Linked DNA regions of Homo sapiens. The protein of the gene in region 4 purifies or fractionates together with the protein of the main gene of each other region. This does not show direct contact. Each region holds a gene or a part of one and is shown on either strand. Other genes may lie near its edges.

What was found.
Region 1: the proteins of DDX6 (region 4) and EDC4 purify together in Homo sapiens (affinity purification with mass spectrometry; 6 studies listed by BioGRID and IntAct, with this or other methods). This does not show direct contact.
Region 2: the proteins of DDX6 (region 4) and LSM12 purify together in Homo sapiens (affinity purification with mass spectrometry; 5 studies listed by BioGRID and IntAct, with this or other methods). This does not show direct contact.
Region 3: the proteins of DDX6 (region 4) and G3BP2 purify together in Homo sapiens (affinity purification with mass spectrometry; 3 studies listed by BioGRID and IntAct, with this or other methods). This does not show direct contact.

What each region holds. Positions count from the first base shown.
Region 1 is NC_000016.10:67,871,572-67,876,676, reverse strand, and holds the start of EDC4 (enhancer of mRNA-decapping protein 4), read right to left. Parts: upstream 3,626-5,105; 5' UTR 3,416-3,625; coding exon 3,334-3,415; intron 733-3,333; coding exon 576-732; intron 190-575; coding exon 78-189; intron 1-77. UniProt on the Homo sapiens protein: In the process of mRNA degradation, seems to play a role in mRNA decapping. Component of a complex containing DCP2 and DCP1A which functions in decapping of ARE-containing mRNAs. Promotes complex formation between DCP1A and DCP2.
Region 2 is NC_000017.11:44,059,347-44,063,671, reverse strand, and holds part of LSM12 (protein LSM12), read left to right. Parts: intron 1-4,325. UniProt on the Homo sapiens protein: Nicotinic acid adenine dinucleotide phosphate (NAADP) binding protein. Confers NAADP sensitivity to the two pore channel complex (TPCs) by acting as TPC accessory protein necessary for NAADP-evoked Ca(2+) release.
Region 3 is NC_000004.12:75,652,087-75,656,411, reverse strand, and holds part of G3BP2 (ras GTPase-activating protein-binding protein 2), read left to right. Parts: intron 1-541; coding exon 542-644; intron 645-1,165; coding exon 1,166-1,346; intron 1,347-2,330; coding exon 2,331-2,429; intron 2,430-4,325.
Region 4 is NC_000011.10:118,752,472-118,757,623, reverse strand, and holds part of DDX6 (probable ATP-dependent RNA helicase DDX6), read left to right. Parts: intron 1-336; coding exon 337-453; intron 454-1,300; coding exon 1,301-1,364; intron 1,365-2,120; coding exon 2,121-2,222; intron 2,223-2,736; coding exon 2,737-2,912; 3' UTR 2,913-2,919; intron 2,920-5,152.

The DNA of each region.
Region 1 (5,105 bases), on a different chromosome or scaffold from region 4:
ACTGGCAGCATGAGGGAGACTGGAAAGGCTGGGTGTGCCCCCGTACATTATATATGCCACAGCATCCCAGTACCTACCTTGTTGCTTCCCCGGGCCTTGCTTGAAATGCTAGAGTCACTGCTAGCCACAATCTCCACCTCCTTGGCCAAAATCCCAATGCAGGTGGAGCTATCATCTCCTGAGAGACAGCTGTGGGGAAGAGTGCAAAAACTTTGCCTCTTGTTCACCCAAAGGCTCAGCGGGCAGGGTTGGGAGGAAGCGAGGACATAGCCAGACTGGGGAAGGTATCTAGTCCAATGTCAGCTTCGCCTGGTCCACTGGCCCCAGACCCACAGCTCTGCTTGCTCATCTCCTTCCTTGGGAATGAGCCTACTTTCATTCTAAACCAGGTATCCAGGCCAAACCCCTGAGCTTGTCCTTGCCTCTCATCCTAGTGCAAGCTCAAGCTCCACCCCAGGTCATCTAGAGAGGAAGCAGCAGAGGCTGCTGGCCCCGCTCACTCCCCATCTCATGCCTTCAGCTAGCAGACACCCCAAATACACCATCACCACTATTGTCGTCTCCTAGGTACTCACATGACCTGCTTCTCTTGCAGGTTAATGGGTGGCATGGTCCGAAGACCAGTCTTGTTTGCTGAGGTACTATCACCTGAGCAGAGCGGGTCTGGGACCAGAAGTCCATTGAGGTCCCCATTGTAGGCACTGGATGGCCGTGGGCTCTCTGCACTGGGGCCTGGGGACAAAGAGGGTCATTCTGATAAGGTTGCTCGACCTGCCCACAAGCCTCTCCCCTTTCAGAGTTTCCTTCAAGAACTATGAGGTGCTCTAGGAACACTCAACTGAGCAAAGCATGTCCATGAGGAGGAGGGCCCTGTGTTCATCTCTCGTTCCATAAACACTGATGTAGGCAGGACCAAGGATGAGCATGAGGCTCTTCTACCTGGGGGAGGGGTACAAGCCATCAAGGACCCTTTGAGGGCAGTGAATACTCAGGTCTGGGTCACTACAGAAGAACTCTGTGGACTGAGTGAGGGCATAGGAGGGGTCAGGAAAGACTTTATACAGCAGTTAGTGTGACCAGAACACACAAACACAGGAAGGATGGAGTGAAAACAAAGCTACAGAGGCATCAGGTATGATGCCGTGGCACTTAGACTCTCCCTGTGGGCCATGAGAACCATAAAGAGTTTCAAAAGGGAAGGTGATGTGGTCAGTTCTGGCCAGTGGGAAGATTACTCTAAGATAGCATGCAGAATGGTTGAGAATCTGGGTGAGAGAGATCAAGGCCTAGACCAATGTAGTGTCAGAGTTTGGAGAGAAGATGGGCTCCTAAGGCATGGAAGGGCACTGGTAAGATGTGGAAGGGGCTGCCCCACACAGAAATGGCTCAGAAGAAGCTATCTTGGGCAAGTAAACACAGAAGGCAGGGACATAAAGGAGCTGGACCAAAAGGAGAGAAACTATGGGGCAGCGTGTGGAGTAAGGAAAGACAGCATTTCAGTTCTTTGCAACTGGCTGGGTTTCAAACACTCTCATAGGCTCAGACACCATTTCCAAAATCCCCAGGTGGCAAGGAGCCTAGGGCTCCACATTCAGAACATAGCAAGTTTCCAGTCACAACAGTCTTTGAATTATTTTGGCGCGATCTCGGCTCATGGCAACCTCTACCCCCTGGGTTCAAGGGATTCTCCTGCATCAGCCTCCCAAGTAGCTGGGATTACAGCTCACCTAATTTTTATATTTTTAGTAGAGATAAGGTTTCACCATGTTAAGAAACCATGTTGGCCAGGCTGGTCTCGAACTCCTGGCCTCAAGCAATCCACCCACCTCGGCCTCCCAAAGTGCTGGGATTACAGGTGTGAGCCACCGCGCCCAGTCCTCAATAGTCTGAGTTCTGACCTGGTCGTCCAGTGAGAGGAGACAAGAAAGAGCTGCTTGGCAAACAAGGGAATCAAGTGCCAATCAATAAACAAAGTAGTTATAAGGAAAGCCTCCAGGCCACTTCATTCAGATCAGAGCCACTTTAGCTGCTCAGGGACAAGCTGACAACTCTCCCTTCCATGAAGGGTACCATGAGGACAACCAAAAAGCAGGCTCAGGCTGTACATGGTTGGCCATGCCAGGCTCTACCAAATCTCTGCGGAGTCTAGTCTACAAAGCAGCTGAGCAGCAGGAGAGGTCCACGCCCAACTCATGAGTAAAGAGGGCACACACTCCAGGCCTGGGACAAAGGGCCGAGTGGTCTCAGGCAGCAGATGGATTTTCTGAAAGTAGGGGTTAGTTGAATCCACCCCTAGTGAGCACCAGTGCCTGCTTCCAGAAGCAGCCAGTCTGGGCCTCCCAGCAGGTGTAAGAACAAGATCTGAGGAAACACAATTCTCCACTGTACGCCCACACCATCATCACCGGCCACTTCAGAGATCCCTAAACCTGTCAGTAAACTAGTGCCTGCACACGTGCTATTTCCTCTTCCTAATAGGTGGCTTCTCCATAGGTGCCTTGGGTGCCTTTCCTGACACCCAAGCCCCTGTTCACATTACAAGACCTAGCCCAGTCTCCCCTCTCAGACCTGCACTCTGCACTCACCAGCCTCCACCCTTCCCACGCCCATCACAGTATCGAGACACTCCTTTCTTTCAATGACAACAGTATATTACAACCCTGTTAGCTGTGTCTTGGGGAATCTTTGGGGGCAAGACTAGTTCTGAGGTATCATTAAGAGCCAAAGCGAAATATGAATGAATGGGAACCAATTAGGGCTTGCAGATATTTGTAGCATAATTCAGTCAGGGTGGTGCGGTCTGTGATTTGCCTTCATCCCAGAAAGAACACGGAATTGAGACTGGACACCTTCCTCCTGGAAATCAGTTTCAGAACGGGAGGCCTGGAGTCTTTATTCCAGAGAGAAGGGCAAGTTATGGAGGGGGACCGGCAGCTCTTCAGCATCGCGCTTAAGCCTGGGCCCAGAATTCCATATACGGAGCCCAGACCAGGCCTCTGAACCATGGAGAAAGGGAAGAGGAGCTAGGCCAGTCCCAGGAACACTAGAGACCTCGGGGCCAGGAAACCAGAGGGCCCCAGCGGATTCAGAGAAGGCGCCTCACCTTCAACCGAGACGCTGAAGGACAAGGCAGAACAGCCTGAGGACAAGATAGGGAGGGGTCACACCCAGGGGTCTGCGCCCTTCGAGGGGCACAGTCAATCCCCGTCCACCCTTACCCGCCGGGAGGATCCAGAGCTAGTCCTAAGGGAGCTGTGGGCCCCAATGGCGGTTCAGACGCGCGCCGCCCTTTTGTCAGCTCGCCTGGGGCCCACCCCCGCAACCCCCGCTCACCGCCCGCGGGCCGGTCCAGCTTGAGGATGTCCCGCAGGTGCTGCGTGGCGTCCTCGATGTCGATGCTCGCGCAGGAGGCCATGGGCCCTGCGGCGGGCGCCCCGCCCGCACCGCGTTCGTTCCGCCGCCGCCGCGCACCACGCACCCTCGCTCACCCGCCACGGGGCGAGACAGCGGGACGCCGGTCACTACACAGTCCACCCGCAGTTCGCAAACCGCCACCCGCGCAGCGTCGCTGAGCCCCGCCAACCCCACCAACCGCCTCCACTTCCGGCACCCACGAGCCGAGGCTCCCGGAACCTGCCAGGGCCGGAGAAGAAAGGTTCCGGGCTGGGGGCGGAAGCCTAAACCCCTCCCGCAGCCAGTCCCCCTCGGCGGCCCCGCCCCTGTGTCCGCGAGGTCAGGAAAGTCCCACGGGGCTGAAGTAAGCGTCCACGCACTGGGCCACCTAAAGCCCTACTCGACTCAGAAGGCGCCAGGTCCCTGCCCACTCCCAGAGCATGGACTCCGATGGTCCTGGGACGGGGTCAACTTAGCCGCCCATGCTAAGGTCCCTCAGACCCCCAGAATATGCTGAATTGGCAGGTGCCTCAGGTTCCCTTTGGGAATGGGTCGGAATAACTCAAGGCCTGAGGCTACCCTCGAGGTCATAAAACTCAGGAATTGCAAGAGCAGGGGAGATGATCCCACTACAATGACCAGTCATTGTTCCCTACTGTCCCCCAGCATCCCCTTGTCCCACCTGGCACCCTCAGGTTGGAAGAAAGAAACCACAGTTTACAAATTCTTCTTTATTGCAGACAGTTCAGGCACAGGTACATGGAAGAAGCCGTATTGCAGATTTTACACAAGGTGGTTTGAGGCAGCAGGCACCTACCTCTTCCCCACCCCCACTTCCCCAAATACACATCAGCCTAGAGATCATTCCCACTGAAATCTCCTGAGCATGCTGTCCTCTCAAACAGCACACCATCCAGCCCTGTGCCCAATGTCACCAGGCAATCTGTGGGATCTGAGGAGGTCCTTAGCCTCCACCCGTAGTGGGACAGGGGAAGGGTATCCTTTTACATGTCAGATTTAGCTGTGGTGTCCTTACCAATCCTAAAACCCTTAACAGGGCACTGACCCAAATCTTGGGTTTGGTTCTAGCCTATGGTTGCTACATTGCCACTAGGTTTATACCATCCAGAAGTCTGTGGGACAAGGGGCTAGATTTGTACTGGGCAAGGCCTTTGTCCCCAAAATGGAGAAGCAGAAACTGCCCTAATAGCTAAGACTCCCCGGAATTGGAAGATAGCATGAAGTCTGTATGCTGAGGAAGGAAGTGGAGAGAGGCCTGGCAATGTCCTGCAGCAGTCTGAGGGGTGAGGACTCCTAAAGCATGAGTCCCTCACAGACTGCCTCCTTCCACAGCTCCTGACCTATACTCCAACACAACTGGGCCTGGCTCTGTGGGCAGTGGAGGCTGGCTCTTCGGGTTACCTGCCTTTGGGTAAAGATATCCAAAGCAGATGGGACAGGAGCTGAGCTGCCCTCTGCCTGGCTTGGTGTATGTGGGGCATCCTGGATATGATCCTGATCCTTCTGGGGATAGAGCAGGCCCCTCCCTTGATACTGCTGACAACTCAGCCCGGAGGGCCTGAACGTGATGAGCCATTTTGCCAAGGCCTCTCCAGCTTCAACAGGATTCAGGATCATCTCTCCTGCTACTAGGGCCCTGAACCTACCCAGAGCAGAAGTCACAGGAGGTATCAGAACTGACTGCACAGGCT
Region 2 (4,325 bases), on a different chromosome or scaffold from region 4:
TTTTAAAAAATGTAGGTTTAGTTTTTCTCTTTATTCCTGGATGTTATCAGTAGATCTTAAGAAGTAGCTTAACTCCCAAATAAGTTGAGAGCTTGCTTCTGCCTTTATGAAAGAGGACTTTTTAAATCTTGGAGTTCATGATGAACTAATAGTGCTGCTGGGGTTTGGGTGGTGGCGTTACCTATGAATGTCTTCAAATTGTGTATATGTGGATGTGTGCATACGTGAATATATGCATTTTCTGCTTGAAGATCTAAAGTGTTTTTCAGATTCTCGGAGGGTTTCATGACTTAGAAAAGTTTGAAAGCCACTGTCTTAAAGGTTCTTTTTTGTCTTTATGTTTGAATTTTGAGTTCTAACAGTTACATGCTTAGCATATTTTAATCTTGCACATAAAAGTTGATCTCTGGGAACCCCCAAGTCACTTTTGTGTGTGTATGTGTGAGACAGGGTCTTGCTTTGTTGCCCAGGTTGAACTTGAACGCCTGGGCTCAAGTGACCCTCCTGCCTCGGCCTTCTGAGTAGCTGGGATTACATGCATGCGTCACCATGCCTGCCCAAGTCTTTCTTTTTATTGGAGCCACTGCGCCCGGCGTTTTTTTTGAGACAGAGTCTCTCTGTGTCGCCCAGGCTGGAGTGCAGTGACGCGATCTCGGCTCACTGTAACCTCCGCCTCCCAGGTTAAGTGATTCTCGTGCCTCAGCCTCTGGAGTAGTTGGGACTACAGGTGTGTGCCACGACGCCTGGCCAAATTTTTTTTTTTTTTGGAGACAGGCACACACTGTCACACCCGGCTAATTTGTTTTATTTTAGTAGAGACGGGGTTTCATTCTGTTGCCCAGGCTGGTCTTGAACTCCTGAGCTCAGGCAGTCTGCTTGCCTCGGCCTCCCAAAGTGGTAAGATTATAGGTGTGAGCCACTGCTCCTGGCTCAATTTTTGTATTATTAGTAGAGATGGGGTTTCACCATGCTGGCCAGGCTGATCTTGAACTTCTGACCTCAAGTGATCTGCCTGCCTCAGCCTCCCAAAGTGCTGGGATTACAGGTGTCAGCCACCATGCCCGGCCCTAAGTCACTTTTTTGACAATTCCGTTTATTTAGTCAAAATTGAAGTTGATCATAATAATGCCTCAAGCCCTGTCATAGCCTGTGCTGTCCCCTGTACTTGGAACATTTTTCCTTCCAGAATGACTGGAGCCTTACCACCCATCAGCACTCAGTTAAATGGCACGTCTTCCAAGAAGTCTTCTCTGATCACCCAGGCTGAAGTAATTTGCCTGCATTATTCTCTCTCATAGTACCTTGTCCTTCACAGTTAAGGTGACCATATCATTTGTAGTCCAACCTGGGACATTTTTGAGAGTAAAGGGGAATGCTTTTATTTTACACAGGGACAACAGGTATAGATTAGGTTACCCTATTCATAGCTTTTTTTTTTTTTTTTTTTTTTGAGACGGAGTCTCGCTTTGTCGCCCAGGCTGGAGTGCAGTGGCGCCATCTCAGCTCACTGCAAGCTCCGCCTCCCGGGTTCATGCCATTCTCCTGCCTCAGCCTTCCTAGTAGCTGGGACTACAGGCGCCCGACACCACGCCCGGCTAACTTTTTTGTATTTTTAGTAGAGACGGGGTTTCACTGTGTTAGCCAGGACGGTCTCGATCTCCTGACTTTGTGATCCGCCCGCCTCGGCCTCCCAAAGTGCTGGGATTACAGGCGTGAGCCACCGCTCCTGGCCATAGTTGTTTACTTGTCTAGTGTCTGTCTCACTAAACTTTATTCTGCAGGGATGGGGACCATACCTATTTTATTTACTATTGAATATACAGAGCCTTGCACAGAGTATTTAATAAATATTTGTTGGATGAATAAGATGCCTCCAATTTTAGTAGCAGGTGCTTTTCATTAAGTCTCTTGAATTAATGTGGTGGAAGTTTTTCCCTCTAGAGGAATCTTGCAATAATGTGTATTACTTTGCCTCTCTTGGGAATGTGGTGTGTTCTGTACAGTTCAGCAAAGCAAGGAAACACTTAGGCAACTAAAATAATAGAGGGTAACTGATGCTGAGGCTAGTGAATGTCGTTACCTCAGATCTGGAGTTCCTATCTTGTCAGATTCTAGGGAAATGCCACACATTTTTTAGTGATGGCCAGGGACAGATTTGGAAGGCTATTGAGTTCATATGGGTGTTGTCTTGTATGGGATGTCCCATTCTTTGAAGCTTATAGGTTTTTGAAACCTTGGCTTAGTAATATACCTTCTACCAGAGTATAGGAGCTCTTTGAGTGTCTTCTATAAGCTCATGAAATTTTAAGACTTGTTAAATAATTTATTCCTTGGTGTTTTTTTTTTTTTTTTTTGAGATGGAGTTTCGCTCTTGTTGCCCAGGCTGGAGTGCAATGGTGCAACCTCGGCTCACCGCAACCTCCGCCTCCCGGGTTCAAGTGATTCTCCTGCCTCAGCCTCCTGAGTAGCTGGGATTACAGGCATGCACAGCCACACCCAGCTAATTTTGTATTTTTAGTAGAGACGGGGTTTCTCCGTGTTGGTCAGGCTGGTCTCGAACTCCCGACCTCAGGTGATCCGCCCGCCTCAGCCTCCCAAAGTGCTGGAATTACAGGCGTGAGCCACTGTGCCCAGCATTATTCCTAGTGTATTAAAGAACCAAATAGGCTCTGAGTTATTTTTTGGTGTTTATAGGGTATGATAAGTCTGTCACTAGATCTTTAGTGAGTAGTAAAGATCTGAAAGAGAGGTGATTTTCTGAAGTTAGAAAGTTGGCTCTTGTGACCAATGAGTGCCACCATTTAGAGGGGGTGGGGTAGTGTGGATGGGACTGTTAAGCAGGAGCTGTTAAGAAGCAGTTCTCTTCTTATGTTTGACCTCAGGTAGATATAGCTCTTGGTTAGTTTGTGGATTATCTTTGCCTTTAGGGTTTTCCTTGTTTACTAGCATTGTTGTAAACTAGCTGATTACCCAGTTTTTGAGGAAAGCAGCAGGAAGTAATAGCTTGGGGAACACCAGAAATCTTTACTTTTCTTACTCTGTGGCCTGCTTGCCAAATCTTGAAAGAGGTTTGCTGGGAAGAGGAGTCAGAAACTAAAAACTAAAATTAGGTTGGAGGGTTATCTTTGGATTTCGTTTATTCATTCTTCCGTTTGCAGAGATGTTTATGAGTAAGCTATATTGGCTTTCCCTTGAAATCAACCTTTTAGGATGCTTTGCGATTCCTTTTTGGAGATTGACTTAGAATTAGAGAGAGCCTTTTGGGCTACTGCTGAAAACAGCTATTTCGGGCAGCTATTAACATGTTGCATGAATGACGTGAAAAGTTAGTCTCATTTTTAAGATCACGGACTTGAGTTTTTCTTAAGATGGAGGATCATTTAAGCATATGGAAGGGAACTAATGTACTCTGGGATGTCTGGAAGAAAACTGTTGAAGTTTCAGTTGCTTGCAGTCTGGAGAAGCACTAGCCTACTCTATTTATTTTATTTTATTTATTTATTTTTTGAGACGAAGTCTTGCTCTGTCGCCCAGGCTGGAGTGCAGTGGCGCCATCTCGGCTCACTGCAAGCTCCACCTCCCGGGTTCATGCCATTCTCCTGCCTCAGCCTCCCGAGTAGCTGGGACTACAGGCGCCCGCCACCATGTCCGGCTAATTTTTTTGTATTTTTAGTAGAGACGGGGTTTCACCATGTTGGCCAGGATGGTCTCGATCTCCTGACCTTGTGATCCGCCCGCCTCGGCCTCCCAAAGTGCTGGGATTACAGGCTTGAGCCACCACACCCGGCCTACTCTAACTTTAGTCAAAGGTATCATCACATATTGGCCCATCTTGCTGACATAGTAAGTGATCTGCTTAATTAAACCTGTTGATAAAAACCGGATATTTGTTGACTCTGACCTAGCAGGAAATGGAAGAGAAGGGCTTATACAGGAAATACTTAATAATAGCTCAACTAGGGAAGGTATAAACTAGCAACTTCTTGGAAATTGGCCTGTTTTGCTTTCGAATGATAGTTCACTTCAGGCTAAGAAGTCTTATTTCTATCTCCAGCAGTAGCATGTAAGAGGAAGCTTGAGAGAGGACAGTAGGGTTGCAGTAGGGGGAATTCTTTTTTTTGAGACAGGGTCTCAGTCCATTGCCCGGTGTGATCTCGGTTCAAGCGATTCTCCTGTCTCAGCCTCCTGAGTAGCTGGGATTACAGGCGCCTGCTGCCACCATGCCCGGCTAATTTTTCTATTTTTAGTAGAGATGGGGTTTTGCCGTGTTGACCAGGCTGGCCTTGAACTCCTGACCTCAGATAATCCACCTGCGTCGGCCTCCT
Region 3 (4,325 bases), on a different chromosome or scaffold from region 4:
AGATTTGTTTTTTTCTAATAGAGTACAATAAATATTAAACTTCATCCTTGCTCTCCAGTTTTTGAGAGAACAGGGGATATTGTAGTTGAATGCCTTTGTTATTAAAAAAAAAAAAATTGGAGCCGAGCGCGGTGGCTCATGCCCGGAATCCCAGTGTTTTGGGAGGCCAGGGCGGGTGGATCACTTGAGGCCAGGAGTTCGGGACCAGCCTGGCCAATGCAGTGAAAACCCCATCTCTACTTAAAAAAAAAAAATTAGCTGGGCATGATGGTGCATACCTATAACCCCAGCTACTCAAGAGGCTGAGGCAGGAGAATCGTTTGAACCCAGAAGGCGGAGGTTGCAGTGAGCCAAGATCACACCACTGCACTCCAGCCTGGGCAACAGAACAAGACTCCATCTCAAAAAAAAAAAAAAAGGAAAGAAAATTGTCAAATTTTCTTTTTTGCTATCATACCACTTCCTTAAACATGTTAAAAATATGTCCGTTAGAAATTGTGAAGCCTCTTTAAAAAAGATGTGCTGTATTATGTATTTTCAGAATCAGAAGATGAAGTAGAAGAGGAACAAGAAGAAAGACAACCATCTCCTGAACCTGTGCAAGAAAATGCTAACAGTGGTTACTATGAAGCTCACCCTGTGACGTAAGCATACTATTTGCAAGGTTAAATTTGGTCTGAACTATGTCAGCAAGGTGGTTTCTGTTCCTAGAATTATTGTTGAAAGTAAATTCTTGATAAAACCACCTATTATGTCAGTATTTGAGTACCTATTGTGTATATGCAAGAAATTTGGAAAGAATGGTTTTATTTAATACAAAAATTGAACATGGCTTGCACCAAAACAGTGGTTCCTTACTGATAATGTAGAGTGTTGAAGACAACACAGAGTAAGCATTTTATTTTTATAAAAGATAAGGTTTATAGTTAGCACTAAAGTAAACATTCTTAGTAATTCAGTTTTGAAATGGTGGGATTAAAGAACTGCTACTTGAGAGTATTATTCCTTCTGTCTTATAGCTCTTTTTGGAATTTTGCTTTGAATACTTTGTAGATCTAGAACAAGTTATTGGCATATAACTAGTTACACCCATTGGATTAGAGAGAAATTGAATTTTTTCTTACTTGAACTCCTACTAAAAAGTGAACTAAATATTTTATTGTAGTAATGGCATAGAGGAGCCTTTGGAAGAATCCTCTCATGAACCTGAACCTGAGCCAGAATCTGAAACAAAGACTGAAGAGCTGAAACCACAAGTGGAGGAGAAGAACTTAGAAGAACTAGAGGAGAAATCTACTACTCCTCCTCCGGCAGAACCTGTTTCTCTGCCACAAGAACCACCAAAGGTTAGATCAAAGAACTCTTTAGACTTACAACATCACATGTTCAAATTTGGTGCTGTTAATGAAGTATGACCTTTTTCTATTATGTTAAATTGTTTAGTAAATTATTTTATGTATATGAAAGAAGCTGTGGGGTTTGTTTGTTACCTGAGAAAATGTTATTGTTTCCCTGCCCCGCAAAATACCCCTCTAAGAGTGAAACTTATAACTTAAGATGAATCCTTGTCTGTATGCATTGTTTAGTAACTTATATGAAATTATTTGGATCCATGTATAGAGCTGTCAGTTGTTCTTTCATTCTGTATTAAATTCTCTGAGCACAGATGCACCAGGAATCATGCAGTTTCCCAACTTAAACAAGTTGGTCTATAATTAAAAGAAGAGATACCTGTTGTTTGTGGTTTAAATGGGATCAGTTTCCTTTCTACACCAATTAAACTATCTTGGAAAGATGAGTGACATCCTTAGTGTATCATGTAAGCCTACCTGAAACTTCTTTTATCTTTCTTCAAAGTCAAAGGTTAAAGTATATTTGAGTGGTGATAGGAGGAGATTCTTTGTTCAATTTGTGAATGTCAGAGTTTCCAGCTAATACTCTCTTCTTTCCTATCCTTCCCTCTCCCGTTAACACCATCACACACCCTATCTTACCCCCAAAGGGGAAATAAATTGTTTCTATTAGGTTCAGGTTTTTCTAGCATGTTTGTTAGTGGTTTTGTTTGCCACTTGCTCATCTACTTAGAGTACGTAGGAACTTGCTTATGGTTTTACTTAGTAGTCAGACAAAAGTTATAAATAAGCTTGCATAATGAGATTTTGAAAGCTGGCACATAGACTGGCATGTGTGTGTGTGCCTTTCTTTTAGGAGTCTTCCAATATAGAGCAATAGTTTAGAAATGAAAAGAAAATATATATTTGGAAGTTTCCCTATAGGAATGTTGGTGGTTTTCCATGATTAGTAGTCTAGGTTTGTTGCATTTCCTGCAGGCTTTCTCCTGGGCTTCAGTGACCAGTAAAAACCTGCCTCCTAGTGGTACTGTTTCTTCCTCTGGAATTCCACCCCATGTTAAAGCACCAGTCTCACAGGTAACCAATCTGTGAACACATTGGATTGTATCCTTGTTACATTGCCAATTGCTTATTTTTAAAATACTTTTAAAAATGAGTCAATCAGAAATTATGGATTAAATATACAAAAAACTTGTATTATATGTCAGTGCACCCACTTTAAATGTCAAATCTCCATTCATCATCTACATAGGTGGTATTTGGGGTTTGGGTGTGTGAAATACAGATTAAGTTGGTTTTTACCAGTATATAATATTGTCATTTAAAAGGCTTCTTAAAATAACAAAAAGAATGTTCCTTTTTCAAAAGCTTCAAATTCTATTTAGCAAAAATATTTTAGGTAAGAAATTCGGAGAGGCACAAAGTAGTGTGGCGTAATAAAGAATCGTTTTTGTTTTTTTTTTTTTTTTTAAAGCAAAAAAAAAAAAAACCAGGAAACTTTTTAACATACGCTGCCTAAGCTCTCAGTGTGTAAGTGGTTCACACCACTTAATTGAAGCCTGTACCAACTTATGACTGTAGTGTTCACCTTAACTGATCATTCTAGTATTCTGCTTTTTGTCTGTTTGTCATCTTACCCATTTCAGAGCTTTCAAAAATGTGAAAATAAGACACTGCCTACCTAAGAAGTTTGTTAGATTTAGTTTAGAATGAACTAAATTCTAATTAAGTTTATCAGCATATAAAGGGTGTCCAATTTTTTCCCTACATTTTGCATTAAACTTCATTCCACTAGAAAATTTATGTTTGAAATGTTAGTATATAAATGTATCTTTTATATGTTCTAAGCAGTGAAATTTTGAGGTTTTAAAAGTAGTAATTTTTAGTTTTTTGGTGTTGGGACACATAATCAGCTACATAAAAGTAGAATACGCCCGTGATACTTTTTTTTTTTTTTCATTTGGGTATTCAGGCAATGCGTGGTTACCCTTATGTAAGATGGTCACCCAGAGTTCCATCTTAACAAAGGAAATTAGTTTGTGCAGTATTGTTTTGTGCTTTTCTACCCATATGAAGACCCAATAAATAACTTTTGGCCCTTCTTTTGGAATCTTCATTTCCTATCAGATTTGGATTTGGAACCTTTGGATTATTTCATTTCAGAGAGTTTAAACAGTTAAAAGTTAAAATAGCTAGTGCTTATGCCTTTGATATGCGCCAAGCATTGTGTGAAGCACTTTTTGTTCATTTTCAGTGAATCCTCACAACCACCCTGTCAGGGTGGGTACTATTGTTTCTGTTTTAGAGATCAAAAAATTGAGGTCTAGAGTAACTCACAGACATTTATGTACATAGTAGGGTTGGGCTTTGAAGTCATGCAGTGGGACATGAGTCCATATGTGGCTCATGTAAACGTTTATTTTTTTGAGACAGAGTCTCGCTCTGTCGCCCAGGCTGGAGTGCAGTGGTAGTGGCAGTGGCGTTATCTTAGCTCACTGCAACCTCCACCTCCCCAGCTCAAGTGATTCTCCTGCCTCAGCCTCCCGAATAGCTGGGATTGTAGGTGCCCGCCACCACGCCTGGCTAATTTTTGTATATTTAGTAGAGACGGGGTTTCACCATGTAGACCAGGCTGGTCTCAAACTCCTGACCCAAGTGATCCACCCGCATTGGCCTCCCAAACGGTGGGGATTACAGGCATGAGCCACTGCGCCCAGCCTCATGTAAACCTTATGCAATTCTCCAGCACCTTGCTGCAGAGTCATGTATCTTATCTGTATTTGCATCAAAGAGGACTCTTAAGACATGCCTGATTAAATCCTAGTCTCTTGCCCAGAAAAATACCTTCATATTTATCTCAAGTAGTTTGCCTTAAATATATTTTCAAAGTTAGTTGTAGGAAATGAAGTTGTATTTCCTATGCCACCCCTTTAATAAAACAAAAATTTTAAATGTTTAGAATTTAAACTTTAA
Region 4 (5,152 bases):
AGTGAAACTCCATTTCACAAAAAAAAAATAAAATAAAATATTTTTAAATGGAAACACATAAAACATAACTACTTTGAATCAGATAATCAATTGTATTACTCTTGTTGACAGTTATGTGGCCCTTAAGAAATATACTCTAATACGGTAAATCTTAGATATTATTATCTTCCATCTATTATTTACAATTTTTACAATTTACCATCTCTCTCATATCATGAGATTCTAAGTTTTAGACCATGTTAATGTTTCTTTTTTGCTGGTTCGTGTTTTCAAGATTTGGCAAACCAAATGAAGGTTTTTTTTATTTTTCTCATACTTATTTTTTTCTGTGCTCAGCTTCAGATAAACCAGTCGATCATTTTCTGTAACTCCTCTCAGCGAGTTGAATTGCTAGCCAAGAAGATTTCTCAACTGGGTTATTCTTGCTTCTATATTCATGCTAAAATGAGGCAGGTGAGTATAAAACTAGAACTTGCACAAATTTAATAAGAAATCTCTTTCTTTATTTTGTTTTAATGTTCTTTTAAATGTCCTGAGTTTAAGAATAAACTGTTCCTTAGTAGCCAAAGGACCTTTCATTTTGACCTCCCTCAGGTTCAATTTTCTAGCAATAAAATAGGGATAATAGTACATATTCATAACTTACAAGGTTGTTAGGAAAATTAAGATAAATGTTTAAATGAGTACTTTGGAAGCTGTCAGGCATGATACAAATGTAAAATTTTATTCTTCCCTTCCTTTCCATGTTTAATTCTCTGTTTAATACAGTAAATAGCCACATGTGGCAATTTAAATCAGTTAAAATTAAAATAAAAAGTCAGTTTCTCAATCACAGCCACATTTCAAGTGCTCAGTTAGGCACCTGTTGCTACTGGATAGTGTATTGGAATTGGAAGTACAGACACAAATATTTCCTTTATTATAGAAGTTTTACTGGACAGCACTGCTCTGGATTTTTAAATATGGCCCCTCAGCTGGCTGATTTTTCTTTTTTTCTTTACTGTTTGCCTTTAGAAAAAGATACAATATCTAAATTTCAGAATTTGATTTAGCAAAAAATAATTTAAAACTGTAACAAAAATGACTTTTTTGTTAACTACATTATGAAATTTCGTAAGTAAACAGTTTCTGTAGACGAAGATATCAAGAACTTAACTCATTTGGTTTTGAAAGCAGCTTAATATCATGGATCACTTATAAACAGATTTTGGGTAGAACTGATCGTCTGGGAGAAATAATTATGGGAAATTTGGGGCTGTATATGAGTGTTAATCAAATGGAATACATTGCTTTCTCCTAGGAACATCGAAATCGTGTATTTCATGATTTCCGAAATGGCTTATGCCGCAATCTTGTTTGCACTGGTAAGTATTTTTGTATTTCCTTTACCCAGTGTTTTTCTCCCAAGTTGTTTTTTGCTTTCTCTGTTCATATTACATAGTGCAACCTGTGACATAGTCCGACACACCCTACCACTACTTCTAGGATTTCTGAAGTTGAAAATGAACTCTTGTCAGCTCCTGATACTGGGTTCCATATCTGAAACTTTAGAAGACTTACTCTGGCACTCATACCTCATCTCTGTCTTTTTTTTGGGGGGGGGGGGGAGGGGGATGGAATCTTTGTCACCCAGGCTGGAGTGCAGTGGTGCGATCTTGGCTCTCTGAAACCTCCACCTCCTGGGTTCAAGTGATTCTCCTGCCTCAGCCTCCCAAGTAGCTGGGATTGTGGGCGCCTGCTACCGCTTAGCCCGGCTAATTTTTGTATTTTTGGTAGAGACAGGGATTTCACCATGTTGGCCAGGCTGGTCTCGAACTCCTGACCTCAGGTGATCTTCCTGCTTTGGTCTCCCAAAGTGCTGGGATTACAGGCTTGAGTGCACCCAGCCTCTTTTAGACACATTTTTTAAAACTTGCTTACAATTACTGGAAAAAAGTAACTTGGGAGCAGAAAGTTATTTATGATAATGTGATTATGAAAGGTAATGCCAGTAATGTGCAAATGCATTTGAATAACTGAATTAAATTAATAAACTTAGGTTATGCTAGAAATATGTGTTAGTATTGTACTGAGAGACATTTCTAAATTGAAAAAATGAAAATTATCTTTTTTTTTTTAAGATCTGTTTACCCGAGGTATTGATATACAAGCTGTGAATGTGGTAATAAACTTTGATTTCCCAAAGCTGGCAGAGACCTATCTCCATCGTATTGGAAGATCAGGTGAGGAAAAAAGAGGTGATATTCTTGGTAGAAGTTCTTTTTTGAGGCGTGTAATGACTAAATTTTGTTCTTTTGTGAAATAGAGTACAGTAGCTATGAGAACAGTGAATTAACAGTAATTCAGTTGTTTGGTATTTAAGACTAATTTCTAATTCTTCTGTAGCATTTATTAAGAAAAGTTAAAATAACTGCTTAATTTGAGATGAAATTAACACATGAGAACTTCACTCATTAGGTGGTATGTTCTGTGACTGTTGTTTAATGTGTATTTTATGGCAGTTTTGACTGCCATTTTGTCATTTGAGAAAGGTGAAATGAAGTACTATTTTGGGCTGCGAAACCTGAAGTTGTAGGGAAACCTGTGTTTGAAGACCATTAAGAAGTTGTTTTGCATACTAAGAATGGCACTGAACATCATTATCAATCCTGTGTGGTTTTGCCACTGCTTGACTTGCACAATTCACATTGATTTTCATATTTTATTCATTAAAATTTTTAAACGCATGTTTTTTAGGTCGCTTTGGTCATCTTGGCTTAGCCATCAACTTGATCACATATGATGATCGCTTCAACCTGAAAAGTATTGAGGAGCAGCTGGGAACAGAAATTAAACCTATTCCGAGCAACATTGATAAGAGCCTGTATGTGGCAGAATACCACAGCGAGCCTGTAGAAGATGAGAAACCTTAACAAGCATGTACGTCCCTGACAGAACAGCTAAGAGGAACCTTTAAATGAGGGAAATCAAAATCTTCTTTCCTGGGGGAAATTTGATGTCACACCATATATAATAGCAATAAAGGGTAAAATACCCACTAGCATAAATGACAGTAAATAATATCTCTTGTGGGAGGTTGTAGTCTCATTCGAGAATCTGTAAATGTTGTTCTTGAATGCAGCTTCCCGGGTAATGTGGTAGATTAGCAGTACTTAAATTCAGAGTCCTAAAATAATGAAAGCAAAAAAGAATGTTTTTCAGCAATTTGTTTTTCTTTTTGAGACAAGGTCTCACTGTCATCCAGGCTGGAGTGCAGTGGTGCAATCATAGCTCACTGCAGCCTGGTTCTCCTGGGCTCCTGAGTAGCTGGAACTGTAGGCACATGCCACCACGCCTGCCTAATGTTTTAAATTTTTGGTAGAAACAAGGTCTTGCTTTGTTGCCTAGGCTGGTCCAGAACTCCTGAACTCCAGCAGTCCTCCTGCCTTGGCTTCCCAAAGTGTTAGGATTATAGGCGCAAGCCACTGTGCCACTGTGCCTGGCCTTTTTTGACAGTTTTGTAGGGGGGATTTTTGTTGTTTTTGTTTTTTGAGAGTCTTGCTCTGTTGCCCAGGCTGGAGTACAGTGGCACAATCACGGCCCACTGCAACCTCTGCCTCCCAGGTTCAAGCGATTCTGGTGCACCTCAGCCTCCCAAGTAGCTGGAATTACAGGCATGCTCCACCATGCCCAGCTAATTTTTGTATTTTTTAGTAGAGTTGGAGTTTCACCATGTTGGCCAGGTTGGTCTTGAACTCCTGACCTCAAGTGATCTACCCGCCTCAGCCTCCTAAAGGGAGGCTGGGATTACAGGTGTGAGCCACCACACTGCCAGCAGTTTTGAATATGAAAGTATTTACATTTCTGAAAATGTAAAATGTTTTTAGCATTTACTCTTAATTTCTAGTAAGTACATTAATCACTCTGATAAAACTATCCATAATACCTTATTAGCAAATGTTTAATCAGATTATGAGGATGGCCATCTTTTTAAAATACCCACTCTGGGCCGGGTGCGGTGGCTCACACCTGTAATCCCAGTACTTTGGGAGGCCGAGGTGGGCGGATCACGAGGTCAAGAGATCGAGACCATCCTGGCCAACATGGTGAAACCCTGTCTCTACTAAAAATACAAAAATTAGCCGGGCATGGTGACACGCACCTGTAGTCCCAGCTACTCGGGAGGCTGAGGCAGGCGAATCACTTGAACCTGGGAGGTGGAGGTTACAGTGAGCTGAGACCGCACCACTGCACTCCAGCCTGGGTGACAAAGCTAGACTCCATCTCAAAAAAAAAAAAAAAAAAAAAGCCACTTGGGCTGGCTCAGTGGCTCACACCTGTAATCCCAGCACTTTGGGAGGCCGAGGTGGGTGGATTACCTGAGGTCAGGACTTCAAGACCAGCCTGGCCAACCTGGTGAGACCCCGTGTCCACTAAAGATACAGAAAATTAGCCAGGCATGGTGGCGGGCGCCTGTAATCCCAGCTAGTCAGGAGGCTGAGGCAGGAGAATCTCTTGAACCTGGGAGGCAGAGGTTGCAGTGAGCCGAGGTCATGCCATTGCACTCGAGCCTGGGCGATAAGAGTGAAACTCTGCCTCATATATAAATAACCCACTCTGATTTCCTAGGTAATAAGAGTGAAACTCCGTCAAATACATAAATAAAATACCCACTCTGATTTCCTGGACAACCTGTCTTCCCATCTTTTTTTTATTTTTATTAAGATGGGATCTCACTATGTTGCCCCGGCTGGTTTCAAACTCCTGGGTTCAAATGATCCTCCCACTTTGGCTTCCCAGAGTGCTGGGATTATAGGTGTGAGCCACCACGCCCTGCCTCTATCATCTTTTGGTGACTATTGGGCTCTAGTTAGAAATGCATGAAACAAGGCTCAGCTTTAAGCAAGGTAGGTTGTTTCAGTATTTCCTAAAGAAAATCTGATTTGACAAAGGATAGTTTCCAAGTTATAGGTGAACATCTTACCTATTTAAGTAACCTAATGTTACTTAAATTTTTTTTCTCTTTCTTTTTTAAATAGAGACGAGGATTTACCATGTTGGCCAGGCTGGTCTCAAACTCCTGACCTCAGGTGATCCGCCCACCTCAGCCTCCCAGAGTGCTGAGATTACTGGCAGGAGCCACCTCACCCAACCAATTGTTACTTAAATAATT